Regions from separate parts of the Homo sapiens genome. Here all the other regions are linked to region 2. The links come from fine-mapping of genetic effects on gene expression. A gene starts in region 2. Each other region holds a variant in brackets. All regions are shown on one strand. Distances are from middle to middle.

Region 1 (10,088 bases), 27 kb before region 2:
CTTGCTGAAGCAGATAGCGAATACTGGGAGGGAATGCTGAATAGAAGCCATTTTACAGGCCTCTTCAGTTACCCAGAAAAGTTCAGAAAAACACAGAATAACAATGGTCACTCCATTGAGTGCTTCCTGTGTCCTGGGCAATGTGTCATACACCTTTTCATTGCATGATCTTTGTTGTTGTTGTTGAGACGAGATCTTGCTCTGTTGCCCAGGCTGGAATGCAGTGGCAGAATCTTGGTTCACTGCAACCTCTGCCTCCCAAGTTCAAGCAATTCTCCTGCCTCAGCCTCCCCAGTAGCTGGGACTACAAGGGCATGCCACCACATCCAGCTAATTTTTGTAATTTTAGTAGAGACAGGGTTTCACCATATTGGTCAGTCTGATCTCGGACTTCTGACCTCAAATGATCCACCCACCTCGGCCTCTCAAAGTGCTGGGATTGCAGGCATGGGACACTGCACCTGACTCATTGTATAATCTTATCAACATACCAGCTGAGGGGTGGAAGGCCCCAGGAAGTAGGGTCCACGCCCATACGCTAACAAACAGCTGGACTGGGAATCAGGTTCATGGGAATCAGCCCAGTCACCACCAACTGTGCTGCCCTCTTCACCTTTTTGTGGTGCTGTATCAATGAGATGCCACCCACTGCTCCATCCTGGGTTCCTGCCTGGGGACCCCTTCGTTCCTTTCAACTGACTGCCTTACGTGTATGGTGAATCTCTGCATGGGTACAGATGCAGTGTAACATGTAGACATGGCCTCATATACAGGTTCTCTGGTAGGGAATGGGCAGTGACTCAGTGACTTTGAGGCAGGACCAGTGGCCTTTCCTCCCTGCCAGGCTTCTATCTGGAAGGCACTGTGTGTGCCCTCTCTTCTGGTCTGCAGCTGTGGCTTCAGCCTGCAAGTGCTTCAGGCAGCTCCTGGCCTTCAGACTGTGCCACACACTTGCCCTAAACCTGGCCTGAAATGCCTGGGATGTAGCATTTGCATGTAGCAAAAGCTGGTGCCGAGTACTGAGTCCTACCAGCCTTCAGATTTGACCTCCATCTGCTTCTCTGGCTGCAGCAAGATTCCTGTTTCCTCAGTGAATCAGCACATAGTCCTTCCAACAAGAAAATCTCTTTTCCCATGGGGATGAGGGGAGATGGGGAATTGCTATGCAATCTCTGGAAAAGTCTTTTCTCCCTGAGCCCCAGAATTTTCATCTGAACTCATCTGGGAGAAACATTGGGGACCATAAGATTATATATAGACTTTTTCCTTTCTCAACCAACAGGATGGATGAGTGCTGAGGGGGGAATTCCAGTCTGTTTCAGTCCCACAGTTGCCACTGGAACGCAATTTCTTGCCTCTTCTCTGTGCTCTTTTTTTTTTTTCTCTCAGAGATACAGGGTCTCCCTCTGTTGTTCAGGCTGGAGTGCAGTGGCACTATCACAGCTCACTGCCACCCTGAACTCAGTCTCAAGCAATCCTCTCAGCTCAGCCCCCCTGAGTAGCTGGGACTACAGGCGTGCACCACCACGCCCAGCTAATTAAAAAAAAAAAAAAAAAAAAAAAAAAAAGGCCTGGCGCAGTGGCTCACGCCTGTAATCCCAGCACTTTGGGAGGCCGAGGTGAGTGGATCATGAGGTCAAGAGATCGAGACCATCCTGGCCAACATGGTGAAACCCCGTCTCTACTAAAAATACAAAAATTAGCCTGGCATGGTGGCAGGCACCTGTAATCCCAGCTATTTGGGAGGCTGCGACAGGAGAATCACTTGAACCAGGGAGGCGGAGGTTGCAGTGAGCCGAGATCATGCCATTGCACTCCAGCCTGGGCGAAAAGAGCGAAACTCCGTCTAAAAAAAAAATATTATAGAGACGGGATTCTTGCTATGTTGCCCAAGTAGTCTCAAAATTCTGGCCTCAAGAGATCCTCCTGCCGATCGAGACCATCCTGGCTAACACGATGAAAAGCCGTCTCTACTAAAAATACAAAAAAAATTAGCCAGGCATGCTCGTGGGCACCTGTAGTCCCAGCTACTCTGGAGGCAGAGGCAGGAGAATGGCGTGAACCCAGGAGGCAGAGCTTGCAGTGAGTCAAGATCACACCACTGCACTCCAGCCTGGGCAACAGAGCAAGACTCCGTCTCAAAAAAAAAAAAAAAGAGATCCTCCTGCCTCAGCGTCCCAAAGCACTGGGATTACAGGCCTGAGCCACCATGCCTGGCTGTCTCTCTGCTCTATGCTTTTTTTTTTTTTTTTTTTTTTTGAGACAGGGTCTCACTCTGTCACCCAGGCTGGAGCACAGTGGCACAACCTTGGCTGACTGCAACCTGCACCTCCCGGGTTCAAGCGATTCTTGTGCCTCAGCCTCCTGAGTACCTGGAGCCACCATGCCTGGCTAATTTTTGGTTTTTTTTTTTTTGTGGAGACAGAATTTTGCCATGTTAGCCAGGCTGTTCTTGAACTCCTGGCCTCAAGTGATCCTCCCACCTCAGCCTCTCAAACTGCTGGGATTACAGGTGTGAGCCACTGTGCCCAGCCTCTAGTGAGTACTTCTAAAAAACCTACAATGCTCAGGATAGACCTTACAGCAAAGAATTATCCAGCCTCCAATGTCAATCGTGTCAGCTTCAGACACCATGAACTAGACTGTGGTCAGGTAAGAGGCTTAGACGGGGGGACTCCCTCCCTCCTGTGACTTTGGAAGAAGAGGCACCTGTCACTTGCCCCTTCCTGTGATCTGAATCCAATGGCAGCCCCATCGTCAATCTATAGGAATTACTCTTGCTGGGTTCCAAGGCCAGAGTGGCTAAGAAGCCTGCTTAGAGGCTTCCAGCAAGTTACGGGCAGCACCAGATTAGAATGCTGGCCATATTGAGTGCTCACTTGCTGGGACATGGCTTCTGTGTTTCCTTCCACTTTCCTTGTTCACGTACCTTGCCTCTCCCATCGAATGTAAGCTCTTTGGAGGCAGAGAACACATCTTGCTCATCCTTGTATCCTCCACAGCAAGCACCCATCACACATTTGGTGCTTATTTAGAATTTATTGAATTCATTCATTCAGCCAACATTTATGCAAGGTTGAACCAACGTGGGCCTTGCCCTCCTCGTGGAGGGAAGCAGACATGCAAAGCAGCCACCATAGCCCTCTAGAAGAGGTCTCAGATTGGCTATCTGTAATGCAGTACAGAAACTGGCCGGGCGCTGGCCGAGCGCAGTGGCTCACACCTGTAATCTCAGCACTTTGGGAGCCCGAGGCGGGCGGATCACGAGGTCAGGAGATAAGATCTTCCTGGCTAACACTGTAAAACCCCGTCTCTACTAAAACTACAAATAAATTAGGCATGGTGGTGGGTGCCTGTAGTCCCAGCTTCTCAGGAGGCTGAGGCAGGAGAATGGCATGAACCCGGGAGGCGGAGCTTGCAGTGGGCCGAGATTGTGCCACTGCACTCCAGCCTGGGTGACGGAGCAATACTCCATCTCAAAAAAAAAAAAAAAAAAAAAGAAAAAGAAAAAGAAAGAAAGAAATTGGCCAGGTGCAGTGGCTCACGCCTGTAATCCCAGCACTTTTGGAGGCTGAGGCAGGTGGATCACTTGAGGTCAGGAGTTCGAGACCACCCTGGCCAACATGGTGAAACCCCATCTCTATCTACTAAAAATACAAAAAAAAAAAAAAAATTAGCCAAGCATAGTGGTGGGTGCCTGTAATCCCAGCTACTCGGGAGGCTGAGGCAGGAGAATCACTTGAACTCGGGAGGGGGAGTTTGCAGTGAGCCAAGATCGTACCTCCGCACTCCAGCCTGGGTGACAGAGCGAGACTTGGTCTCAAGAAAAAAAGAAATAGAGGAGGGGGCTTCAGTCTGTGTAGGGGAGCTGGGGAAGACTGGAGAAAGGGGCATTTGGGCTGGGACTTGACAGCTACATAAGAGTTCTAGCAGGTGAGGAGGATGGGGTGGGGAAGGGGATGCTGGAGGGCTGGGGGGTTTTGGCAACAGAACAGTCAGGAGAAGACGACTAAAAACTGAAAGGAAGAACTGCAGAGAGAGTTCCCCGACCTGCCTCACCCAGCCTGCCCTTTCAACAACTAGAGGTGAGTGCTGGCAAGTCCCTGGGTGCACACTGGAGCCAAAAAATGGCCCATTGTCTGGAAGCCCTGAGCCAGCCTGTCCCCTGGTGTCATGCCACACAAGGCCTTGCTCACCTGTCAGCCTTTGCTCTTCCTGGCCCCAGATGTAGGTAGAACAATGGCCTCTGAACACACCCAAGCTCCACGGTGGTAGCCGGTGTCTGATAAGACAAGTAGGGAAATGATCTCTTTCATGTTCCCTTTCTCCTCAGAATCAGAACGCTGCGCCCAGGTTCAACCTGCTGTTTCTTCACCAGGTGACCCTGCATAGGCTTTTGAAACCACCCTGACCCTCATCCGTCTAGCGACAAGATGGGAATCATCAAGACTTCGTTACGTAACTCAAGAAGTCGGTGTGAGAACCTGGGAGATAAGGGTTGTTGAGCTGGGCGCAATGGCTCATGCCTGTAATTCCAGCACTTTAGGAGGCCAAAGCAGGCAGATCACTTGAGGCCAGGAATTCGAGACTAGCCTGGCCATCATGGCAAAACCCCGTCTCTACTCAAAATACAAAAATTAGCCAGGTGTGGTGGTGCACGCCTGTAATCCCGGCTCCTCAGGAGGCTGAGGCTGAGAATCACTTGAACCCGGGAGGCGGAGGTTGCAGTGAGCCAAGATCGCACCACTGCACTCCAGCCTGGGTGACAGAGGGAGACTCTGTCTCAAAAAAAAAAAAAAGGGGGGGGTGGTGGGGCAGCATTTTGAGAACTGAGTCTGAGGAAAAGCCACTGTTACTCTTGTCTGACAATAGTGCCAACTACCTGTGATCCTGAATAAGTCCATTCACCTCACTCGACCTCAAGTTTGAGGGTACAGTGATGACGGCGTTTCTCCAGCTTTCTTTGAGGGATCATGGTGAGGACCCGAGGCAGTCAGCTTTGCAAAGGTGTCTGAGCGGTGCAGGGTGCTCCCCCATTTTAAGGCAGTGCTGTAAATGCTCCCGTAACGGAGGCCAAACATTCTGGTTTTCTATTTTATTTTATTTTCAGACAGGGTCTTGCTCTATCACCCAGGCTGGAGTGCAGTGGCGTGATCACAGCGCACTACAACCTCTGCCTCCCAGGCTCAGTTGATCCTCTCACCACAGCTTCCCGAGTAGCTGGGACTACAGGCACATGCCACCACACCCCACTAATTTTTTGTAGAGACAGGGTCTCACTATGTTGTCCAGGCTGTCTCAAACTCTTGGGCTTAAGTGATCCACCCACCTTGGGCCTGCCAAAGTGCTGGAATTACAGGCATGAGCCACCATGCTCTGCCTAAACATTTTGCTTTGAATGAGCC[T/C]AGCAGGTGTACAAGGAACATGATATACCACTAGCTAGTCTGAAGCTTGGGAAAAGAAAGAAAGCAGAAAAAAGATAACAGCAAGAGCTTATTTTGTATATTGAACCCCAAACAAGTGTGTGTCCACCAACCTGCTAGGGCCTGGGGACAGCCCTGATGGAGGTGAGTGGGGACCCCCACTTCTCAGAGGAGAAACTGAGTCTCAGGGAAGTTCAGGGACTTGCCTGGGGTTACTGAGCACACAGAGCAGAGGAGAGATCGCACCTGTCTGCATTCTCCCACCTGCTCCTAATCCCCTCCAGCCAGGCTGGGCTTTTCCTCACAATGAGATGGGGTGTGGAAGACAGAAACCCAGTGAGAGTGGCCTCTGTGGAGAGGCCGCCGTGCAGGGAAGGAGGCAGGGTGGGGCCTGGGGCCAAGCTCCCTGCACAGCCATGACAGCCATGTCCCTGGTCTCGACTCCCCAGGGTCTCCTGCTCCTGGTCACTGCACTGTTGGTGGTTGGCGCTGGGAGAACAGGAGCACTCCCTGGGTAGTCTGACACACAGGATGTGTCTCGCCTCAAAGCAGAAATGAAACCGGCACAGTTCTCCTTGTGAGACACCCCCTCGCCACTTTCGTCTCTCTCCTGCAGGAACCAGGAGAGTGGCTGCCACCACTGGAAGCCAGATTGGAGGACAACAGAGAAACTGGCCAGCTCTGGGGTCTGACCCATGCAGGGAGCTGGGTGTCCACCCCCCACTGCACACATCTTGGGATTGCTTTGTGCATACCCCCTTGGGCTGCAGGTCACAGTGATCACAAGATACTGTTCCTATTAGGTTTGATGATGTAGACTCTAAGGGAGCTGCCCCTTTATACAAGTCCCTGTGTCCCAGTGGAATCGCAGCCAGCCCATCGCCGCGGGAGGGAGATTTGTTTGTGGTTTATTCGCTCATTTGTTGTTTACAGGTTTAGTCACCGTGCTTTCCACACATACGTATTAACAGTCACCCATGTGCCAGGCATCGTGTAGATGCAGGAGGAAGGATATTAAACAAAAAATTACACAAATAACGATTTTTAGGGTTGTGAAGTAATAAGTATAGTTGCGAAAAGTGCCCAAAAGACAAAGGAGAGGCCACTGTGAAAGGTGTAAGGGGAGCCAGGCGCGGCAGCTCACGCCTGTAATCCCAGCACTTTGGGAGGCTGAGGTGGGCGGATCATGAGGTTAGGAGATCAAGACCATCCTGGCCAACATAGTGAAACCCCGTCTCTACTAAAAATAGAAAAATTAGCTAGGCGTGGTGGCATGTGCCTGTAATCCCAGCTACTCAGGAGGCTGAGGCAGGAGAATCACTTGAACTCAGGAGGCAGAGGTTGCAGTGAACCGAGATTGCACCACCGCACTCCAGCCTGGCAAGACAGAGAGCGAGACTGCATCTCAAAAAAATAGAATAAAATAAAAAGCCGGCGTGGTGGCAGGTGCCTATACTATAATCCCAGCTACTGGAGAGGCTGAGGCAGAGAATCACTTGATCCCGGTAGTCGGAGGCTGCAGTGAGCTGAGATCACACCACTGCACTCCAGCCTAGACGACAGAGTGAGACTCTGTCTCAAAAAAAAAAAAAAAAAAAGGTGTGAGGGGGAGCCTGACCTATTCTGGGGCCTAGGGAAGGCTTCTGAATGTTTCCATGGAGACCTGATGGAAGGCCAAGGGAGAGGAAGGGGCAGGTGCAGCAGGAGAAGGAAGCAGAACCAATTGCGCAGGACCGTGTGTGCTGCGGAAGGGTGTCTTGTCTATGTCTTGAAAAGAAGGAACGTCTAGAAGGGTGGGTGACCTTGGGCAAGCCTTCCTCTTCTGTTAGCCTCAGTTTCCTCATCTTTTCAACAGGGACATGTTTGCCCTCCTTGCAAGGTTGTTGAAGAGCTCTTCAGTTAAGCACCTAGCACAGCACCTGCCACCTTGGAGGTGCCCAATAAGTGGAGCCATTGGCCTAATGGTTGTGACAGAGGTGGGGCAGGAATCCAGGCTGCGTGCCCAGCTCGCCTTCCAGCAGCTGCCCCTGCAGTCCCTGTCTTCTTCCAGGGCTGCTTCTAGGAGACACTGAGCCAGGAGCTGTCACTGGGCTGAACACATTGGCCCGAGTTCCAGCTCACTCTCTGCTATAGTGTTCCCCTGCTGTCATATCACTGCCCTTTGCCAGCCAGGTTAACGCAGCCTGGGAAAAGGCTGGGGTGAGTCTACAGCTACGGTCAGCCTTAGAAGCTGTTGTCCCCCCTCCCTCCTCCCACCTTCCACAGTGCCCCAGGCTCCAGCTAGATGACCTAGTCAGTCTTTGCAGATCCCTAATTCCTGTGATTAGCTGGGTAACCACGTACTCTGCAAGTGAGATGCAGGGTGGCACAGAGCTGGCAGCCCCAGGCTTGACCAGCAGTAGGACTACATCATTCTGAGAGTGCAGCCAGGTTGGACTCCCTCTCTCCTGATTCAGGGAAGGAGTCTTCCTAAAGCAGGAAGGAGCTGATCATTGATTGCATGCATGCCTGGAGCCATGCAGGATGCTTTGCTTGCTACTTGGCTTAGTTGTTTTTTGTTTTTTTTTTTTTTTTTTTTGAGACAGAGTCTCACTCTGTCACCCAGGCTGAAGTGCAGTGGTGTGATCTCGGTTCCCTGCAACATCCGCCTCCCGGGTTCAAGTAATCCTCCCGCCTCAGCCTCCCAAGTAGCTGGGACTACAGGCACACGCCACCATGCCCAGCTAATTTTTGTATTTTTAATAGAGATGGGGTTTCACCATGTTGGCCAGGCTAGTCTTGAGCTCCTGACCTCAGGTGATCTGCCTGCCTTGGCCCCCCAAAGTGCTGGGATTACAGGTGTGAGCCACCGTGTCCACCCATACCTGGCTTAGTTCTAACAACAGACCCCTGCTGTGGGTCCTGTTGGCTGCATTTTACAGATAAGTACCTGAGGCTTGAGGGTCACCCATCTGGCAAGTGACAAAAAGGCTGGATTCTATTCCAGGTCACCATGACCTTACCCAGCCCCTAACTCTGAGTGGCCGACCTTTGGGCTATGTTTTGTTGTATTTGGGATTTCATTCAGTTTCATTGTAGGAGTCCTGGAAACGAGATGGGGGAGCCTGAGCTTTGATCTCTTCCTGTGGTAGGTGGCTGCAGAAACTGCTGCCGCTCTTTCTCAGGAGTGTCCCAGGATGATCAAGCTGGAACCACCTCAGTGATGAATATGGCCATCCCCTTGTCCACATAGGGGAAACTGAGGCCCAGAGAAGGGAAGCAACTTGCCTGAGGTTACAAGGTTGGTCAGTGGAGCTGGGGCTCTCCTGGTGCCCTCCTCCATTGGCTTTCTATCTCACCCTCCCTTGCTGGCCTCTGTGCAGTCTCCACACATTGGAAGACCCCAATCTGTGTCTCCTGGACCTCTTTTCTTCATTGCATTCCCCCAGTGACCCAATCCTGAGATCCTAATTACCATCTACATGCCCACAAGTCTCAAGATCTCTAGCCCATCCCACCTCTGAATTCCAACCTATCAGTCCAGTTGCCTTCTTGGCCTCTCATTAGAGATTTAAGAGAACAGTGAACTTGATGTGTCTAAAACACAACTCTTGATTTAGCTCTGCACCCAACCCCCAGCTCTCACCCAAACCTGTTCCACCCACAGTCTTCCCGGATTTAGTAACTGTACCATCATCTACCCAGTTATTCAGGCAGAAAGCCTTGGAATTATCCTATATTTCCCCTTCCCTCATCCCCCACATCTAACCCATTAGCAAAAATATATTGTAATCTGACCCCCCTCCCCATCTCCACTTCCATCTGATGCGACACAACGTTAACTGTCCTCTTGCACCCTCCTTCGCCTTCAGGAATATATTCTCACAGCAACAGCATGCCCTCTTTAAAATACAGAACAGGCCGGGTGTGGTGGCTCACGCCTGTAATCCCAACACTTTGGGAGGCCAAGGCAGGTAGATCACCTGAGGTCAGGAGTTCAAGTCCAGCCTGGCCAACATGGCGAAACCCCATCTCTACCTAAAATACAAAAATTAGCCAGGCATGGTGTCACGTGCCTATAGTCCCAGCTACTCAGGAGGCTGAGGCAAGAGAATCACTGGAACCCGGGAAGTGGAGGTTGCAGTGAGCTGAGATCACATCACTATACTCCAGCCTGGGGGACAGAGTGAGACTGTCTCAAACAAACAAACAAACATAGAACAGGTTGTATCATTCCCCTGCTTGAGGATCCTTCAGCAACTTCCCATCATTTCAGGATGAAACCTCAACTCCTTGCCAGGGCCCATAAGGCCCTGTGAGGCCTGCCTGGGCTTCCAGAAGTTTCCATTCTCCAGTCTCATCTCCTCCTACTCAGAATGATGCAGCTTTTCCTGTTTTTTGTTCCGTGAACACCCCAAGGTTGCCCTTGCTTCAGGGCCTTTGCATGTCTCCCCTCTTCTTGGAACCCTCTTCCCAAGATTGTGGCTTGGTTGGTTCCTTATTGTGGGTGTCACTCGTTGCCTTCTCAGGCCTTCCCTGACCATCCTGTCTAGAAAGCAGCACCTCTGTGTCCTCTCGTCTCTTCCCCATAGCCCTTAACATCATCTAAAATTTTCTGCATTATCTGCCTGCTTCTGCATTGTCTTTTCTGCTCAGTGGAATGTAAGCACTGGGACTGTTTTTGGT
Region 2 (10,088 bases):
TGGGGTCAAAGTAGATGGTGCAAAGTTGGGGTGAGTGGGGAAGGCTTCAGATGATTGCAAGAATCTGACTCTTCTAGGCCTCAGTTTCCTCATACATATAGTGGGGCTAACAGCCTCCTTCCGAGTGAGGATGTGGGGAGATAATATGAGAGTAAAGTGTTCATCCTCAAATCAGGCAGAGGGTAAGTGATTAAAAAACAAGAGTCGAGCCGGGCGCAGTGGCTCACGCCTGTAATCCCAGCACTTTGGGAGGCTGAGGCAGGCGGATCACCTGAGGTCAGGAGTTTGAGACCAGCCTCAACATGGAGAAACCCTGTCTCTACTAAAAATACAAAATTAGCGGAGCATGGTGGTGCATGCCTGTAATCTCAGCTACTCTGGAGGCTGAGGCAGGAGAATTGCTTGAACCTGGGAGGCGGAGGTTGTGGGGAACCGAGATCGCGCCATTGCACTCCAGCCCGGGCAACAAGAGCAAAACTCCGTCTTAAAAAAAAACAAAAAACAAAAAAAAAAACAAGAGCCGCTGTCGATGTTATTGCTGGTGGTTTTATTATCATTGGCTGGGTCGGCAAGGTCACCTTGGCTGCAGGTGGCCTACAGTGGGAGAAAAAGTTAAAATCCTATCTGGGTGACATTATTAATAATTTGTGGACAGGCGGCTGCTCCAGCTCAAGATGGTAACCATGCCAACATTGCAAATGCCATCTCTCCAGAACAACATCACGTCTCCTTTGTAATATGTCCCTTGGTGTCCAGACTTCTCAGCAGCTCAGAGTAAGTGTCTCAGAGTATCCATGAGTGGAAAAACAAAAAACAAAAAAACAAAAAAACCAGGATGTGCCTTTTCTGGGTCATCTATTCACTGGGCTCTGGTGGAGGGTTCTGGCAATGCTTTAGAAATGCAGTCCCACGTGAGGAGCAGTCGTGACCACTAGCTCAGGGTGGGATGCAAGTGAGGAATTTTTTTTTTTTTTTTGAGCCTTGTTGTCCAGGTTGCACTGCAATGGTGTGATCTCGGTTCACTACAACCTCTGCCTCCGGGATTCAAGCGATTCTCCTGCCTCAGCCTCCTGAGTAGCTGGGATTACAGGTGCCTGCCACCACGCCCAGCTAATTTTTTGTATTTTTAGTACAGATGGGGTTTCACCATGTTGGTCAGGCTGGTTTCAAACTCCTGTCCTCAGGTGATCCACCCACCTTGGCCTCCCTAAGTGCTGGGATTACAGGCATGAGCCAACATGCCTGACCTTTTTTTTTTTTTTGAGATGGAGACTCACTCTGACGCCCAGGCTGGATGGAGTGCAATGGTGCGATCTCAGCTCACTGCAACCTCTGCCTCCCGGGTTTAAGCAATTCTCCTGTCTCAGCCTCCTGAGTAGCTGGGATTACAGGCGCATACCAACACACCCCGCTAATTTTTGTATTTTTAGTAGAGACAGGGTTTTGCCAAGTTGGCCAAGGTGGTCTCGAACTCCTGACCTCAGGTGATCCACTCGCCTTGGCCTCCCAAAGGGTTGGGATTACAGGCATGAGCCACCACGGCTGGCCAGTTTTTCTTTTTTAAAAATATTTTTTGTAGTCTCAACTACTCGGGAGGCCAAGGCAGGAGAATTGCTTGATGAACCTGGGAGGCAGAGGTTGCAGTGAACTGAGATCATGCCACTGCACTCCAGCCTCAGTGACAGAGACAGACTTCATTAAAAAAAAAAAGAAAAAAAAAATATAAAATGTGTGTGTGTGTGTGTGTGTGTGTGTGTGTGTGTGTGTGTATTTTGTTTTCTGTAGAACTGGGGTTTTGCCATGTTGCCCAGGCTGGTTTTGAACTCTTGGCCTCATGTGATCCTTCCACCTCGGCCTCCCAAAGCTCTGGGATTACAGGCATGAGCCACTGTGCCAGGCTATTGGTCCCTTTTTACAAGTGACTTGCCGGAGGGTACTCAGCTGGTGCACTGGCAGGGTAGGATTCGAACCCAAGACAAGAACCACGTTCTTTCTCAAATCACACCACACACGTGTGTTCAGGAACCCGGGGGGGGGGGCGGTTTGTTCTGTTCCCCGAGTGAGACCCTGTACCAGGTGAAGACCCAGACTTGGCTCCTCTACTGGGGACCTGCTCTGAGCCCTGAGGCAACAAAGTGTGTTTGACATTAACCATTGACCTCCCTCACCTCACTCAGGTGCTGTCTTTGACGTTGTTCAAAGGCCCTGTTTATCGATAGGACGTAGAGCCTTGGGAGTAGGTGACCTGTCGCAGGTGGTGACCCTGATTTTTATTGATGAGGCTCTTGGGCGTTAGCAACTCTCTCCCAAGGGCAAAGAAGATGTGTGCTGGTAAGAGTGTGTAGGCCACATGGTGGGAGGCTTATGTATGCTTTGTATAATCTGAGTGACCCCAACAGGGAGTCACACTTTGAGCTCTTCTCAGCTGACACCACGGGGCAGTGTGAGGCCCTCAGACTTGGGTGTCTGATGGATCTGAGTTTGAATCCTTGCTTTGCCCATTCCCAGCTGTGTGACTTTGTTTAAACCATGGGACAGCTCTGTGTCAGTTTGCTTATCTGTAAAACGGGAAGGAGGCCGGGCTCAGTGGCTCACGCCTGTAGTGCCATCACTTGGGAGGCCGAGGTGGGTGGATAGCTTGAGTACAGGAGTTCAAGACCAGCCTGGGCAACATGGCAAAACCCTAGCTCTATTAAACAAACAAATTTTAAAAACTGGCTGGGCGCAGTGGCTCATGCCTGTAATCCCAGCACACTGGGAGGCCGAGGCAGGAGGTACATTTGAGGCCAGGAGTTCAAGACCAGCCTGGCCAACCTGGTGAAATCTCTATTAAAAATACACACAAAAAAATTAGCTGGGCTTGGTGGTGCATGCCTGCAGTCCTAGCTACTCGGGAGGCTGAGGCAGGAGAATAGCTTGAACCTGGGAGGCGGAGATTGCAGTGAGCCAAGATTGTGCCACTGCACTCCAGTCTGGGCAACAGAGCGAGACTCCATCTCTTAGAGAAAAAAACAAACCAAAAAAAAGACTAAAAAATCCATTTAACAGATGAGGCACAAGAGTTTAAATAATTTTCTCTGAAAAAATTAGCTGGGTGCGGTGACGTGCGCCTTGTAGCCCCAGCTACTTGGGAGGCTGAGGCAGGAGGATCGCTTGAACCTGGGAGGCGGAGGTTGCAGTGAGCTAAGAGAGCACTATTGCACTCCAGCCTGGGTGAATGGGTGAGACTCTATCTCAAAACAAAACAAAAGCCAACAAACAAAAAAACAGGAAAGGAAATCGGACCAGCCTTACAGGGGTATCTTGAGGGAAAAAAAAATGCACGTTTCTGCAAAGCACCTTGCCTGGTACTAGGAACATGGTAGATGGTTCCTTAGAGTGCATGAGGATGGGGTCACCAAGGATAGGGCAGTGTGTGAAGAGGGCTCGGGACAAAGCCCTGAGGAACCCTAGTATTTTGGGGTAGGCTAGAAGACAAGCCCATACAGCAAATAGAAGAGCAATGGCCGGAGCAGCAGAAGGGAAGCTGGGAGAGTCGGTCAAGGAAGGGTGAGCAGTCGTGCCCAGTCCAGCCAAGAGGGCCAGGGAGGTGGGCACTATGAAACCTCCTTGGCTTTGACAACAAGGAGGGCTCTGATGGCCACGGTGGAGGAGTAGGGACAGGGTGAGAGCACACTGAGCTGATGGGTGGGTAGGAGGTGAGGAAGAGGAGATGAGGAAGTTTGGTGAGAAGAAAAGCTTCATGGGAGAACCAGAGTGTCCTTTACACATGTCAGAAATCAATTATTTAGAATGCTCCAGCTCTACCTAATTTTCACTGTTTTGAAATCAATCTTAGTCCAACCTCATCAGAAAAGCTGGAAGGGCTCTAAGCCCTCTAAGAGCTAGAAGGAACCGAGGAGGTCCCCCCATCCAGGGCTGGCCCTCCTCCCATCTCTCACTGGGACCCCATCCTTATGGGGGGTGGAGTGGATGATTCATTACTATCTAGCATGCTCTTTAAATATATTCACTAGGGGAAAGATTAGCCTGGTTTGTTAACCTCGATTCCAACAGCAAAAGTGACTCTTCAAAGCATGGTGAAGCCTGGGGTAGTGGCCTCCTCCTAGACCCACATTCAAATCCTGTTTCATGGGCCCCCAGAAGTGTGATCGTTTCAGCATCATAGCAGGAAGAGGAAGGCCTGGGAGGCAGGAAACCTGGTATGGAGACCCCAGCTCTGCTCACTCGCTGTGCAAACTAGGGCCAGCCCCTCCTTTCCCTCAGACCTCAGTTTCCCGTTATTCAGGATAAGGGGTTAGACAGGGGTGATTCTAAGGGTCCTGCCAGCTCTGACATTTCAGCATGTGGATATCTATTCTAAAGTCCTTGAAACAGTTAAGTCCAATTCTCCAGATGGAAAACAGGTCCAGAAAAGGCCTGGTCTCCAGTTCCCTCCCTTCTCCCTTCGAACATGTCTTACTCTCTAGAGCAAGATTCCAGGCCTGAAATATGGCTTCCCAATTACCTAAGGATGAAGCCTCAAATCTTTGGCCTGGCATTTAAAAGACTCCGTAATCTTGTTTTACCCAACCTCACTTCCCATTCTTAGGCCTCTCTTCTCACCATCTCCCAGGTCACTGCCAAGCCTTTGCCAATGCTGTACCCCAGGCCTTAATCTTTTTCCTGACTCTCCTTCAAGATCCAGCTTATCCCTGTGGGCTGAGCATGCAGTAGATGCTCAATAAAATTCTCAGCGAGCCCAAGGCCCCCTCTCCTGCACTGCCCTTGGCGTGTTGAAATCAAGTGGGGGCCTTGTTTTAATCATCATTTTCCTAGCTTGTCGGGCAGCCCAGTCCAGGGCCTGGCACAAGGGACCCTCAGCATCCAATACCAGCCAGGATTGGGAGGGGCTCAGTGACCAGCCAGTTGGGCCACCCCAGCTCTTTGCCACAAGAGAAAGTTCAGCCTGGGTTTGGACTCAGATCCTGGCCCCACCACTTACAGGCTGCGTAACCCTGAGCAAGTCACTAACCTCGCTTTTCCTCAGGTTCCACGTTTTAAATATGGGGAGACCAGCTGTGCCCACTGTGGGCTGGGTAGTGAGGATTAAAGAGGAGGATGCTTGTACGGGACTAGCACTGGGCTGGCTCCTAATGTGTCCTGAATATTACTTGTCCCGCCCTGGCCACCCAGTCCCCTCCTCTGGTGGAAGGCACAGCCTGCCCAAGGCTACGTCTCAGGTTGGGTTCGATTGTGTGTGTCTGTGTAGCGGGGCTGTCCCCGAGGGTCGGACTCGATCCTGCCCGGACCAGTACAAGGTGTGGCCCAGCAGAACGCATGGACAGGCAGGGCTCGGGGCGGGCGGGACGGCTGGGGCGGGGCTGGGCGGACCCGCCCCTCGGGGCACGCGGTCTCCCGGCTTCTCCGCCAGTATGTTTGCTTGCTTTTGGGGCCCTTCTCAAGCCAGATCTCTAACGTGGATGGAGTGGCGCGTTTCAGGGTGGGGCTATGACAATGCACTGCCTGTGCAGCCGCCATCACCGCGCCCCCTCCACCGGCTCCGCAGTCTCCTGCCCGGCTTTCCCTTCTCCACCTCCATCTCTGCGGCGGTAAAATGCAGCACTCGCAGAGCGCCTGCGCGGCTTTCAGGCCGGGCGGCGGCGGCGGCGGTGGCTATTTATAGTAGGTGACGTCACCTTGAAATAGACCGTTAGGGCCGGCCCGCCCTTCCCCCCTCCCACTCCCGCCGCTCCCCGCCGCCCGGCCTGGCCACTCTCACTGCGCAGGCGTCGTCCCGTCCTCCCATCCCCCAGCGCGGCCGCGTCTCCTCCCTCGGCGTTGTCCGCGGCGCGAGCCACAGCGCGCGGGGCGAGCCAGCGAGAGGGCGCGAGCGGCGGCGCTGCCTGCAGCCTGCAGCCTGCAGCCTCCGGCCGGCCGGCGAGCCAGTGCGCGTGCGCGGCGGCGGCCTCCGCAGCGACCGGGGAGCGGACTGACCGGCGGGAGGGCTAGCGAGCCAGCGGTGTGAGGCGCGAGGCGAGGCCGAGCCGCGAGCGACATGGGGGACCGGGAGCAGCTGCTGCAGCGGGCGCGGCTGGCCGAGCAGGCGGAGCGCTACGACGACATGGCCTCCGCTATGAAGGCGGTGAGCGCGCCGGGAGCCCGGGCGGCTGGCCGGGGGGGGCCTGGCGTTGGGGAGGGACGGGGATGGCCGCGGGCGCGTTCCCCTCCCGGCCATGGGCGACCCGGCGACCCGGCTGGGCGTGGCCGCCCGCCCGCCCTTAGCCCGCGCTTCCCGCTCCCGCTGGGCGCCCCGCCACTTCCTGAGGCTGGGCCCAGGGTGGGGGATCCGGGAGGGTGCAGTTCGGGATCGCGAAGGCAGCCCCGGAAGGGGGGCGGGCCGGTCGGGGTCGCCACATCTTAGTTCGGAACCCGGCCGGGGGCAGAGGGTGCCCTAGGGGACGCGAAGGAGCCGCATTTCTCCTAGAGCGTTTCACCGGACCCGGGGGCTCCCCCTCTCGTCTTCCTCCGTTCCCCAACTTGGAATAAAGAATCACCTAGTAAGTGGCGCCCTGTCTCAGCTGGTTTTCTCTGCCACGACCTGAAGTCTGCAATTCCGATCTGTTTTGCTCTGCTCGTTCGAATTGTTCTGGTTCCATCTTCCCACGCCTGGGGGTCTGGCTTTGTGTGCGAAGACCCCTTTCCTGCAGTCTAGGCGTGGACGGGGGCGGGAGAGTGGGCGGAGGGTGTGGGGCCCCACTCCACAGCCCCAGGTTTGCTGCTGCGCTGTCTGCTTGGAGATTAAAATGAAACGTGACTTCTAGGTGAGACGAATCTGTGTGTCTTTGCATTCCTGAGACCCTCATAAATCGATTCTGCAGCTTCTCCGGTGGATGAGTCGTGCCCAGCCACACCCTAGCAAAATACCGTGGGTCACACACCACCTGCATTTCTGAGTTCCGGTTACCATCTCACTCTCTCTCCACGTTATTTTACGTTTTCTGTAAATGAATATTTCCTCTCCCTGCGTCAAGGTCACACAGTGGTAGAACAACTGCGACCACCAACCTATGTTCAGTGTACAACCTCCTGAGACCTGGGAGGATCCCCTTGAACTCCGCCTTAGACCTATACATTCAGAAATTCGGGCGGTGAGACTCAGACATCTGCATTGTAACCAGCTCTCACAGGCGATTTTTAGCTGGCTTAAGTCTGAGAATTACTGCCCATGATTATAGTAAATGTATCCTTTGCTGGCCTTTTGGAGGGAGTTCCGAAAAAAAACTGCCAATACAAAGGCTCCCTAAAATCTTAAGTCATTTGGAAAGCTCATTTGAAGGCTTTTGATGTTAATATCAGATGAAATATGTAGTTGGGGCCAATATTTAGGATTGTTCAGGTAAGAAAGGTGCTTGAAGAGTTGCCTTTCCTCTGGTGTCCTTGTTACACACATAACTGGGTGTGTTTGGAAACCAGCAACACCGTTGCCCGTATGTTGATTTGTTGGTGATCTTGACTTGAGCACTATTAGCATGCTGTTGTGGTGAGGCAGGTTTTCTTCCAGACCGGGGGACGGTCTAGGTCTGGAGGCTGAACTTTATGTAATTCAGGGGGTCCTTTAAAAGAAAATCTAAAATATAGTTTTGCATATTTTACAAAAATGGGACTGACGAATGCATTTCCTTGGAAGGGACCCTGAACCTTAATTTTCTGTGGGATAAAGCTGCCTCTGTCCACAGCAGGTCACACTTAAGCCCCTCCTCCCCAGTAACTGAGTGGTGCTGGGATTATGCAGGCTGAGGCCTCTCCACACATTTTCATGAAGTGGTTGCTCACCCTCTAAGTGAGACGTAAAGACTGCAGTGTTCGGAGCCCTTTGGGAAATAAATGTGGTGAAAAGAAAGGAGGGACGAGGTTTAAAGGAAGGGGAAATGGAGGTTAAGGAAAAATGGCTAGAAGGTGTGTTCTGGAACAATCAGAAACCTGAGGCAACTTGAAATGGGGGAAAAAGGCAAGAATGGAGAGATGTTACCAGAACGAAATCTAGTTTGAGCAGAGAAAAAGACTGGCTTTCTAGTAGGCTTGTAAAATGCTTTCCTGCAGCAAGCTACTTGTGTCCATAGATCTTCTCTGGAGGGTTAAGGTAGCCTTTTGTAAACCAAAGGAATCTATAATATCTATATTTGAAATAATTAATGAGTTGGAAAAGCCACCCAGCGTAGAAGAGTCAATCCAAGCTTTAATTCTGCCATCTCAGAATGGTGATAAACCATTTCTCCCCCATCATCTAAATGGAATATATTGTGCTTATAGGTATTTTCTTTAAAAGAAAAAAAAGAATATATTGGAAGGGACTGGCAGGGGTCACTTTCCCTGCTAACTTGGTGTTTGTAGATTAAATTCTTAATGTTACTGGGATGACTCAGTCTCTATGTTATTAATCTCATCAGCCTTAACTAAGGCTTTTGGAAAGGGTGTAAGTTTCAGTAACCCTCTGGGTTTACCTGGGCTTTCTTCAGGGCTGGGGAAGGGCAGGTAAGTAGCCTGCTGTAGGGAGGATGGAGCAGGACACATGTGTTAAGGATATATTCTGATGCCACCAGTCTGTAACCTTGAAACTTACATCTTGGCTTTAGGTCCTCTGAAGTATAAAACTAGTGATGTTGCTGTTATTAACAAGTCAGTTTTGCCTTCAGTCTTCTAACTTGTTTTCTGTTTCCTTCATAATTAAAATGCTCACTTGATAATACTGCCTTCCTGTAATGATTGATGTTCCTCATTCTACCAGCGTCACCTGGAGGACAGTGTTGGTAAGCTTGAAGAAAAATCGTGCATACTGGAAACAATGGTCTTGCCTCAAACCTGTTGAGAACTTCTCTTCCCTGCTTCTCTCCATAATTTGAAGAAGCAAGAAATGTTTCTGAAGTGAAGCATAAAGGAGTATCTTCAAGCTCTATCTCATACCTACCAGCTTGCATAGAGTATAATAGTGGGAAGAAATATTGTGAAAGATTCTAGAACCTAAGTCCTTTCTAGGCTAGGCAATTCTAGGCTACACAATTCGTAGTCTCTGTAAATACCATTTGATAACTGAAATAAACCTATAAAGTGGGATTAAATGTTAGTCCAGAAGACTAAGTGATTTAAGGAAAGAGGGAAAATAACCAGATAGATTTCTGGTGGATATTCATAGACAGACATAATTTCATCATGTATTATGGCCCTAAGTCATCTATTTTATATTAAAACATAGATGGTAACTGTAAAGTTATCAAATGTAAAAATTACTGGGCTAGCATTGTGTTTTAACACTGATACACCAGTTGATTACAGTGTTGACAGAAAACGGGCAGAAACACGTTTAAAGTACCTGCAGAATATATATATAGAAATCTTTTTTTTTTAATCAGTGTTGACCAGGTTGGCCTCGAACGTGTAGCCTCACCTCCCCGAGTGCCAGGGCAACCGGCCTGAGCCACAGCGGCTCCCTAGAAATCTTAAGTGCAGGAAACAAAACTACAGTTTAAGGAAACAGGAGTCGGAGAGGAGGGGCATTTGGCCCAACCACTGGCAAAAGGCTGTTGTTGCAACAACTGTGAGATTCTGGGAAGTGGGGAAATGAGCAGGTGCTGTGTAAAAGTGCACAGCTGACTGCCCCAGGTGAGACAGATCAGTGTCACAGAGAGTAGGAGGATTTTGAGGTGTGATTAGTATTTTTTTTTTTTTTCTTAAAGAGATGGTCTCGTTCTGGAACCCAGGCTGGAGTGCAGTCGTGGCACGATCATAATTCACTGTAGCCTTGAGCTCCTGGGCTCAAGTGAACCTCCTGAGCAGCTGGGACTACAGATGCATGCCACCGTGCCCAGCTAATTATTAAATTGTATAGACAGGATCTCTATATGGTACCCAAGTTGGTCTCAAACTCCTGGCCTCAAGCAGTCCTCCTGCCTCAGCCTATTAAAGTGCTGGGATTACAGGAGTGAGCTACCACACCCAACCAGTAGGAAATCTTAAAGCCACATTGATACTACAGTTTGAAATATGTAAAAACTAGGGAGCTATGTTTCCCACTAACTGGGCATTTAAAATGTAATCGTCTTTGAGGAAGG
Region 3 (10,088 bases), 23 kb after region 2:
ATCTTTACAGCAGCCTTAGCAGTGAGGAATGTTAATATTTTTAACACATGAGGAAACCAGGTATTCGGTGATGTAACGTGCATAGCTAGTAAGAGGCAAGGTTGAGATTGAAATGGGCTGTCTTACTTTAAGGTTCTTTCCACTACGCCATGGATATTTTGATCCCCAACTAGAGAAAAGGAGTCCTAGAAATGTTATAACAAGCCTGGCAAGGTGGTTTACACCTGTAATCCCAGTACTTTAGGAGGCCGAGGTGGGAGGAGGATTGCTTGAGTCCGGGAGTTTGAGACCAGCCCGAGCAACACAGTAAAACCCCATCTGTACTAAAAGTACAAAAATTTAGCCAGCTGTGTTGTTGCATGCCTGTAGTCCCACCTATTTGAGAGGCTGAGGTGGGAGGATTGCTTGGTCCTGGGAGGTTGAGGCTGCAGTGAGCCCTGATTACACCACTGCACTCCAGCCTGGGTGACAGCCTGTCTCAAGCAAACAAACAAACCTGAAGGAATCTATTGTCAAATTCATTTCCCAAAGTTCTACTCCCATGCCATTCTGTACTAGGAAGGGGAGGGGAAATAACATTTGCTGTCTTTTGTGAGCTAGTCAGTCACCCTGCTAAGTGAAGCTTTATGTACATTTTTATTTTTTTATTATTATTTTTGAGACAAGAGTTTCACTCTGTTGCCCAGGCTAGAGTGCAGTGGCACACTCTCAGCTCACTGCAATGTCCACCTCCCAGGTTCAAGCGATTCTCCTGCCTCAGCCTCCTGAGTAGCTGAGACTACAGGTGCATGGCACCACACCTGGCTAATTTTTGTATTTTTAGTAGAGACAGGGTTTCACCATGTTGGCCAGGCTGCTCTCCAACTCCTCACCTCAAGTGATCCTCCTGCCTCAGCCTCCCAAAGTGCTGGGATTACAGGCATAAGCCATTGCGCCCAGCCTACATTTTTTTTTTTTTTTTGAGACGGAGTCTCTCTCTGTTGCCCAGGCTGGAGGGCAGTGGCACAATCTTGGCTCAGTGCAAACTCTGCCTCCTGGGTTCGAGCGACTCTCCTGCCTCAGCCTCCCAAGTAGCTGGGATTACAGGCATGCGCCACCACGCCCAGCTAATTTTGTATTTTTAGTAGAGACAGGTTTCTCCATGTTGGTCAGGCTGGTCTCGAACTCCTGACCTCAGGTGATCCGCCCACCTCGGCCTCCCAAAGTACTGGAATTACAGGCGTAAGCCACTGCACCCGGCCAACGCCCAGCCTACATTTTAAAGTTCAAGCTAATAATCTTGTGAATTAGGTCATAGCTCCAATTTAGCAGCTCAGAGAGGAAAAGTGACTTTCTATGGTCACATAGCTGAGGAGTGGCAGAGCATGTCTTTGTGCAGGGCTTCAAGATCCTTTTCATGATGCGATGTTGTCTTCAAGACAGGGGCTGAAAGCCTGCCACTCCAGGTCTTCCTTGATAAGACCTCTTTCTTCCTTGCCAGGTAGCCTTTGCTCAATCACCTTCTTTACATTCGCCTTTTAAGCCAGATTGGTCTTTTTTACTGCCCCACCCACATCTCCAGGCAATCTGGACCTTAATGTGCTTCTTACTCCTAAAGCTTGGAGCTCCTTCACTTCAAAAAGTGAGGTACTACAGTTACAGTAGGCACTGCCGTTACAGTATAACTCAAGAGGTGGATCAAAGCACCAACTGGAATCTCTCCAGCTGCACCCAGTTTGTTCAGCCTGCTCTTACTTTTGCTCAAGCCGTTACTCTCCTGTCTGGCTTTCTTCTCTTGCCCTATTCGAATTCTATCTATGAAATCTTACCTCCTCCCTGTCAGCTACTGCGATCCCTTCTTTGGGATCCAGTACTGTGGGTCTGTACCACACAATGGCATTTATCTGTCTTCATTCATTTGACAAACACATTGAAGAGCTGCCATTATGGGGTAGACACTGGGCAGGTGGCTGGAGAGACCTTAGTGAATTATACAGACATGGACATGGACCAGGGGGCTAACTCCAGTGTTAGAGTGGGGAGATACAAAAAAGTGGGGAAGATACATTAAAAAGATATAAAGTAACTAGGAAAATGTCACTCACGGTCCTCTCCAGGTCCAGCACACAAACTCACAGTAATGAATTCATGAATAACTCATTGATTACAGGTCAGAATTTTTAAAAAGAAATGACTGAGGCTGGGCGTGGTGGCTCACGCCTGTAATCCCACCACTTTGGGAGGCTGAGGCGGGCGGATCACAAGGTCAGGAGTTCAAGACCAGCCTTGCCAACATGGTAAAACCCCATCTCTACTAAAAATACAAAAATCAGCTGGGTGTGGTGGTGCACATGTGTAATCCCAGCTATTCGGGAGGCTGAGGCAGGAGAATCGCTTGAACTCGAGAGGTGGAGGTTGCAGTGAGCCGAGATTGCGCCACTCCAGCCTGGGCGACAGAGCAAGACTCTGTCTCGGGGAAAAAAACAAAACAAAACAAAGAGAAATGGCTGAAAGGAATCCTTTATTACCCCACCCAAACCTGACAGTCATGCAGCCTTGGGCTTGGCTCTAACCTGTCAACTGGCGGTGTGACCTTGAGCAAGTCCTGGCCTCTCAGCAGCCTCTGTAAAAATGAGGTTGTTGCATTTAGTGGTCTCTGGGGACCTTTCCATTTCTGAGATTCTGTATATTATTTTCAACTGCTCTGGGAAGGTCCCCTTCCTCTTCCTGGTTTTTTCCTGCATTTCTCCCCCTCCCCCTTTCCTTCCGCTCTTCACATTTGTCCCTTCTGTATCCGCCCTCAGCCCCCATTTCCTGGCCACCCCCCAATTCCACTGAGATGGTTACCATGGGAATCATCTCCTGGAAGTGACATCACACATTTCCTAGGCAACTGTTTCCAGGACAGTGACATCATCTGATCACCATGGTAACCCTCCAGGAGGCCACTTCTGCAGTGAAATGGGCAGAGAGAATTTTATGTTTTTTCTGGAGATTGAGGGCAATGTAGGGAAATATTAACAGCAACAAAAAAATCTCAAGAGTTAGAAGAAAAAGCTTTGAATGTTGTGCTTGTTGGGGGCAAGTGGGAAACCAGTGTGGGGCTGGGAAAGAGCAGAAGCTCGGGGCTAACCCCTTCTCCTTTCCAATAACTACATTGATCATATGTCACCAAATTGGGACATTTGAGAGTGAACAGGGCACCATTATTATTATGTGGGAAAGACAAGTGAACATGGCCTCCCCAAGCAAACCAGGGTATGTGGCCCCCTGCCCATAATCAGGGCAGGTGCCCGGCCTTCTTTCCTCAGCTATGGCTCATCCAGCATGCTTTGATTCAGCTCCTCCTGTGTATGGCTACTAGGGATACCACAGGGAGCAAAACAGCCCAGATTACTGTCCTAATGGTGCTCAGGGTCATGTGTGTGTGGTGGGGTGAGGGTGACCCCACAGTCACCCAAATGCACATTGTGGTATGGACTGGGCATGGTGCTGAAAAGCGAAGGCACTTGAGGGACATGTTTTTTTGTTTGTTTGTTTTTTGTTTTTAGATGGAGTCTCTCTCTGTTGCCCAGGCTGGAGGGGCAGTGGCACGATCTCAGCTCAGTGCAGCCTCTGCCTCCCAAGTTCCAGTGATTCTCCTGCCTCAGCCTCCCGGGTAGCTGAGACTACAGGCGCCCACTACTACGCCCGGCTAATTTTTGTATTTTTGTAGCGATGGGGTTTCACGGTGTTGGCCAGGCTGGTCTTGAACTCCTGACCTCAGGTGATCCGCCCGCCTCAGTCTCTCAAAGTGCTAGGATTACAGGCGTGAGGCACCACGCCTGGCTGATTTTTTTTAATGCAAACAGGAGTGTTTCTCTCACGGCTCAAAACACGTCCACAGGGCTTCCCAGTGCTGAGAAGATGGAGGCCTTCAAGGTCCCTGCCGCCCTGCCCATGTTACCTTCATCTTGAATTCCTCTCCAGCCTGCTTTCCGC[T/C]GGGCCGCCAGCCTCCTTTCCACTCCTGATACTTTGCGTGCTCCCTCTGCACTCCAGTGCGCGCCACTGCGCTCCAGTCTGGGCGACAGCGCGAGACTCCATCTCAGAAAAATAAAAAAGCCGGGCGCGGTGGCTCACGCCTGTAATCCCAGCACTTTGGGAGGCCAAGGCGAGCGGATCATGAGGTCAGGAGATCGCGACTACGGTGAAACCCCGTCTCTACTAAAAATACAAAAAAAAAAAAAAAAAAAAGAAAAAGAAAAACAAAAAATTAGCCAGGTGGGGTGGCGGGAGCCTGTAGTCCCAGCTACTCCGGAGGCTGCGGCAGGAGAATGGCGTGAACCCGGGAGGCGGAGCTTGCAGTGAGCCGAGATCACGCCACTGCACTCCAGCCTGGGTGACACAGCGAGACTCTGTCTCAAAAAAATAAAAATAAAAAATAAATAAAAAGAACTCACCTGGCTGTTGCGTGGGACAGATGGGAGAGTAGTTTGCTCCAGAGAGAGCTTGAGTGGCAGGGACCTATGTGGGGGCTGTGACTGAGGGACATGGTGGATACTATTTGGGAGGTAGAGTTGACAGGATTTGCCAAAGGACTGAGTCTGAGGGTGAGGGCAAGGAAGGACTCAGGCTACCCAGGTTTCTGTTGTGAGTAGTGGGGTGAAAGATGAGTAGTCATCTTTCAGATGATGCAGGGGTGCAGGGCTGGGCTTAAGGTTAGCAAGAGAGGTGCCTAGGTCACAACATATATCTATATCTATATTATATTATATATGTATATTTTGTTGTTGTTGTTTTGTTGTTGTTTGAGATGGAGTCTCACTCTGTTATCCAGGCTGGAGGGCAGTGGCGCAATCTTGGCTCACAGCAACCTCCGCCTCCAGGGTTCAAGCGATTCTCCTGCCTCAGCCTCCCGAGTAGCTGGGATTACGGGCAAGTGGCACAACGCCTGGCTAATTTTTTTGTATTTTTAGTAGAGATGGGGTTCCACCATGTTGGCCAGGCTGGTCTTGAACTCCTTACCTCATGTGATCTGGCCCACGACATAGGTTTTTAAATTTTTAAATTTTATTTATTTTTTTAAGAGACAGGGTCTCACTCTGTTACCCAGTTTGGAGTGCAGTGGCAAGATCATAACTCACTGCGTCCTGGAATGATCCTCTGACCTCAGCCTCCCTAGAGGCTAGGACTACAAGTACACACCACCACAACCAGCTAATTTTTGTTATTTTTTGTAGAGGTGGGGTCTTGCTATGTTACCCAGCCTGGTCTCAAACTTCTGGGCTCAAGCAATCCTCCCACTTAGGCCTCCCAAAATGCTAGGATTACAGGCATGAGCCACCGTGCCAGGCCTAGGGAACAACATTTAAGGAGGCACACACTCTCAGGGGTGGTCTTAAAAAGGAGTGCCTTTTTCAACGCTGCACGTCGGGAGAAGCAGGTTTTTGGGATTTTTTTTAGAGGGATCGGGTGTCGTGTTTTTCAGCAGTAGTAACGACACTCTTATGTTAACATGGGGGCTTTCACTTTTACCAACCCCCTACTAAAGGTGGAGAGAGCATTGTGTGCCAGCTGTGTTACTGTCCCCACAGGAGCTCTGGGAGGGGGCTCCGCACCCACTGGCCTGTCTTTTCTTTTTTTTTTTTTTTGAGATGGAGTTTCACTCTTGTTGCCCAGGTTGGAGTGCAATGGTGCAATCTCGGCTCACCGCAACCTCTGCTTCCTGGGTTCAAGTGATTCGCCTGCCTCAGCCTCCCGAGTAGCTGGTATTACAGGCATGCGCCACCACGCCCAGCTAATTTTTTTTTTTTTTTTTTGAGACGGAGTCTCACTCTGTTACCCAGGCTGGAGTGCAGTGGCGCGATCTCGGCTCACTGCAACCTCTGCCTCCCGGGTTCATGCCATTCTCCTGCCTCAGCCTCCCGAATAGCTGGGACTACAGGCACCCGCCACCACGCCCGGCTAATTTTTTGTATTTTTAGTAGAGATGGGGTTTCACTGTGTTAGCCAGGATGGTCTCGATCTCCTGACCTCGTGATCCTCCTGCCTCGGCCTCCCAAAGTGCTGGGATTACAGGCGTGAGCCACCGCACCCGGCTAATTTTGTATTTTTAGTAGAGACAGGGTTTCTCCATGTTGGTCAGGCTGGTCTTGAACTCTCGATCTCAGGTGATCCACCAGCCTCGGCCTTCCAAAGTGCTGGGATTACAGGTGTGAGCCACCACGCCCAGCCATGGCCCATCTTATAGATGAGGAAATCAGGCTCTGAGAGGTTCCAGATCTTCCTGAAGGTCCCATGGCTTGCAAGTGGGGGCAGCAGGCCTCAAACTCAGGCTTGCTGACTCATGAGCCTACTCTCTTCCCACCATGTGATGTTTCTCCAGCCTCCCGAGTTTCCTGGGGAGGAAAGGAAGATAATCCAAGAGCCCATAAAGCCCCAGGTGCTTTCAAGTTGGCCACCTCCTTGTTGCTCACCACCATTGAGGGTGCAGAGGAGCAAACCAAGGGTCTAGGAAGTGACAAGATCTCTCAGCTCAGCAGAGCTTCATCATGAGAGCCACTTTCTATTACAGGTGCTCTCCACCTGCCTTTAAGGTTCTGCCTGGCCGGGCGCGGTGGCTCACGCCTGTAATCCCAGCACTTTGGGAGGCCGAGGCAGGCGGATCACGAGGTCAGGAGATCGAGACCATGCTGGCTAACATGGTGAAACCCCGTCTCTACTAAAAATACAAAAAATTATCCGGGTGTCGTGGTGGGCACCTGTAGTCCCAGCTACTCGGGAGAGTGAGGCAGGAGAATGGCGTGAACCCGGGAGGCGGAGGTTGCAGTGAGCCGAGATCACACCACTGCACTCCAGCCTGGGCGACACAGTGAGACTCCTTCTCAAAAAAAAAAAAAAAGAATTAGGGCAGGCGGGCAAAAGGTGTTTGTGCATGACACATGAGCCTGTGGGGTAGAGGCGGGAGAGGCGGGGTACAGGGACATGTGGGACAGATGGTTGCTGGGGTAGAAGCCTCCTCCTCACCAGCTGGTTCCCAGGGACAGCATACTTTGTAGCTCTCATTTCCAGGCCTACACCTGAGGCAGGGAGAAGAGGGGAATGAGCAGGCACATCCACGAAGCTGAGGCCTCAGGGGGCAGGACTGGTGGAAGGGGCCCTCTGCCTCTAGCTACCTCATAGCCCACCCCAACCAATAAATAACCATGGTTTTGCTAGTGCCTCCAAGTACTGGACCTCAAAAGTCACAAACTACCCGGAGATTAAAAAGAAATGAATAGGCTGGGCACGGTGACTCACACCTGTAATCCCAGCACTTTTGGAGGCCGAGGCAGGTGGACTGCTTGAGTTCAGGAGTTTGAAAGTAGCCTGGGTAACATGGCAAAACAGTAAATACAAAAATTAGCCAGGCCTGGTAGTTCCAGCTACTCAAGAGGCTGAGGTGGGAAGATTGCTTGAGCCTGGGAGGTCGAGGCTGCAGTGTGCCAAGATCGTGTCACTGCAATTCACCCTGGGGAACAGAGTGAGACTGCCTCGAAAAAAAAAAGGAGTGAATAAACACGAAGATTAGGCCCTGTGACCCCCAACACACACGCACACACACACACATGCGCGCACACACACACACACACTCCTTTTTATTTTGAGATAGAGTCTTGCTCTGTTGCCCAGGCTGGAGTGCAGTGGTGCAATCTCGGCTCACTGCAACCTCCGCCTCCCGGGTTCAAGCTATTCTTGTGCCTCAGCCTCCTGAGTAGCTGGGATTACAGGCGCGTACCACCACACCAGGCTAATTTTTGTATTTTTAGTAGAGACAATTTCACCATGTTGGCCAGGCTGGTCTCGAACCCCTGACCTCAAGTGATCCGCCTGCCTCGGCCTCCCAAAGTGCTGGGTTTACAGGTGTGAGCCCCTGCGCCTGGCCATACTGCTTCCTTAATGTATTAGGGTTCAATCAGAGAAACTGTACCAGTAAGGGGATACAGATTAAGAGATTTGTTGCAAGGAGGTGATTTGCGTGATTGTGGGGCTGGCTAGGTAAGTGCAGTAAGTGCAGGCTGGAACTCTTGTCAAGGGCTGAAGTTGCTATCCACAGGCAGAATTTCTTCTTCAGGAAAACCTCAAGTCTGATTTTAAGGCCTTTCAACTGCGTCTATCAAGCCCACCTAAATTATCCAGGATATCTTCCTTTTATGTAAAGTCAACTGATAATGGACTTTATTCGCATCTACAAAACAACTTCACCAAAACATCCAGTTTAGTGTTGGAATAATTGGGGCCTTTAGTCTAGCCAAGTTGACACAGTAAAAAAGACATCACACTCAGCAGGGCATGGTGGCTCAGTCCTGTAATCCTAGCACGTTGGCAGGCCAGGGCGGGAGGATTGCTTGAGGCCAGGAGGTCCAGACCAGCCTGGGCAATGTAGAAAGACACCATCTCTCCAAAACATAAAAAAAGATAAATTAGCTGGGCTCGATAGCTATACCTATAGTCCCAGCCACTCAGGAGGCTAAGGTGGGAGAATCACTTGTGCCCAGGAGTTTGAGGCTGCAGTAAGCTATGATCATGCCACTGTACTCCAGCCTAGGTGACAGAGCGAGACTGTGTCTCAAAAACAAACAAACAAAAAGCAGTGGAACGTTGCTTTACATATATTAGAGCACTTACCACATGCCCTGTGGTTAAGTGATTTGCATGCAGCATCTCAGTTAATCTCAGAACATCCCGTGACGCAGGTATCCTTCTTGTCCCTGATTTTACAGTTCAGGAAACGGCCTCAGAGAGGTGAGGAGACGCCCACAGTCGCGTGGCATGGTGCACCTGTGTTCTGAACTGTCACTTGCCTCTCCCTGTGAGCCTCTCTTTACTCTGCCTTGTCTTCTTGTCCTGGGGCAAGAAGTTAGGGTTCAAGACCCTTCGGGATGTGAGGATGTTTCTGCCACTCTGGACATTAGTTTTCTCCCCTAAGTGGCTCTATCTCTCCCGGCCTGAGTTTGGAAGGGAGACACCATTCTGGTACGACTTTTCTTAGGCCTGTGCTGCCATCTATGGGGCTCGAAGGTGCTCGCCATGCTCCAGACCGGCCACCTGGCAGTCAGGTGAGCTTGCAAGTGTGAAGAGCAGCGGGATGCGGGGGAGGGAGCAAGCCCAGTAACAAATAAAGCAAATATCATCGGCCCTTGTCCTCAGCTGCTCGCTCAGGCCCCCCAGAATCCTGTAGCATTTCTGGGGATTAAGAGGGTGGTGGGGTTTTCACCTCTATCACGTCTACTGCCAGCCTGGCGCCCAAAGGTTCGGCCGTCATCCGCCCCAGCGGGTCCCTGGAACCGCCGGGATGCCCAGGCTGCCAGGGGGTCTAATGGGGAACTGGGAGTTTCTTTCAGGTCACAGGATAGGTCTGCAGTGCGACTCAGGCTCCCGCGGGGACCTGCCCACTCGAACGGGGGAGGAGGAAGAGGCTCCGGGGGAGAGCCAAGGAGGCGGGGAAGAGGAGCGGCGTCCCGGGAAAGGGGATGCTGGAGCTCCTGCCGACGCTCCACCTGTAGCCCCGCCCTTGACTCCGCCCACTTCCCCAGCCCCTCCCTTCCAGGCGCAGCCTCGAGGTGGCGCTGTGGAGCCGCGCAGGGTCTAGGGCGACTCTCTGAGGGAGCCGCGGCCGCCAGGCTCCGTGGGTTTTGGTTCAGGCGCCGGTTAGTGTCGGGGTAGGCCACGCAGTGAGTTGGCTTGAGGCAGGAGGCAGGCGGAAACCGAGGCTGAGAGGCTGGCTGTCGCTGCCACCCCTCAGCAACCCCAGTGCAGCTGGTCATCCTGTCAGCCGATCAGTCAGTCGCGTCCCCAGCCCGGCTCACACGCCTCCTCCATCAGTCCCTCAGTCAGTCCCTGCGTTTCCTGTCTTTCCCTTGCCTTTCTCCCTCTTTTTTCTTGTCTTTTCTTTCTTTCTTTTCCTTCCTTCTCTCTCTATTTCTCTCACTTTCTTTCCTTTTCTTTTTCTTTTTATGAGAGGGGTCACCTCACTATGTCACCCAGGCTGGAGTGCAGTGACGTCATCTCGGCTCACTCAGCTTCGACATCCTGGGCTCAAGCCATCCTCCCGCCTCGGCCTCCCAAAGCTCCGGGATCACAGGCAGAGC

Evidence for each region.
Region 1: its variant is fine-mapped to the expression of YWHAH in whole blood (INTERVAL, PIP 0.92).
Region 3: its variant is fine-mapped to the expression of YWHAH in whole blood (TOPMed, PIP above 0.99). The same link has a PIP of 0.9 or more in blood mononuclear cells.

Annotation. Positions count from the first base shown.
Region 1 is chr22:31,911,451-31,921,538 of GRCh38, forward strand. No RefSeq gene overlaps it. Among named protein-coding and RNA genes, the nearest start is that of YWHAH, 28 kb to the right of the region's middle. RefSeq lists enhancers at 719-1,218, 5,520-6,020. The variant T/C (reference allele first, on the strand shown) is at 5,406.
Region 2 is chr22:31,938,697-31,948,784 of GRCh38, forward strand. It overlaps YWHAH (tyrosine 3-monooxygenase/tryptophan 5-monooxygenase activation protein eta), which reads left to right and starts at 5,839. Exons shown (of 2, transcript NM_003405.4): 1 at 5,839-6,124. The coding sequence starts at 6,038. It overlaps YWHAH-AS1 (YWHAH antisense RNA 1), which reads right to left and starts at 6,670. Exons shown (of 3, transcript NR_171018.1): 1 at 6,537-6,670. LOC124900477 (a long non-coding RNA gene) reads left to right here and starts at 6,138. Exons shown (of 3, transcript XR_007068065.1): 1 at 6,138-6,539; 2 at 6,804-6,982; 3 at 8,768-10,088. RefSeq lists enhancers at 4,301-5,158, 5,159-6,016, 6,760-6,809 and silencers at 5,280-5,429, 5,710-5,799, 5,810-6,029, 6,100-6,439.
Region 3 is chr22:31,961,266-31,971,353 of GRCh38, forward strand. It overlaps LINC02558 (long intergenic non-protein coding RNA 2558), which reads left to right and starts at 9,558. Exons shown (of 5, transcript NR_149128.1): 1 at 9,558-9,647. RefSeq lists enhancers at 8,688-8,737, 8,808-8,917. The variant T/C (reference allele first, on the strand shown) is at 3,961.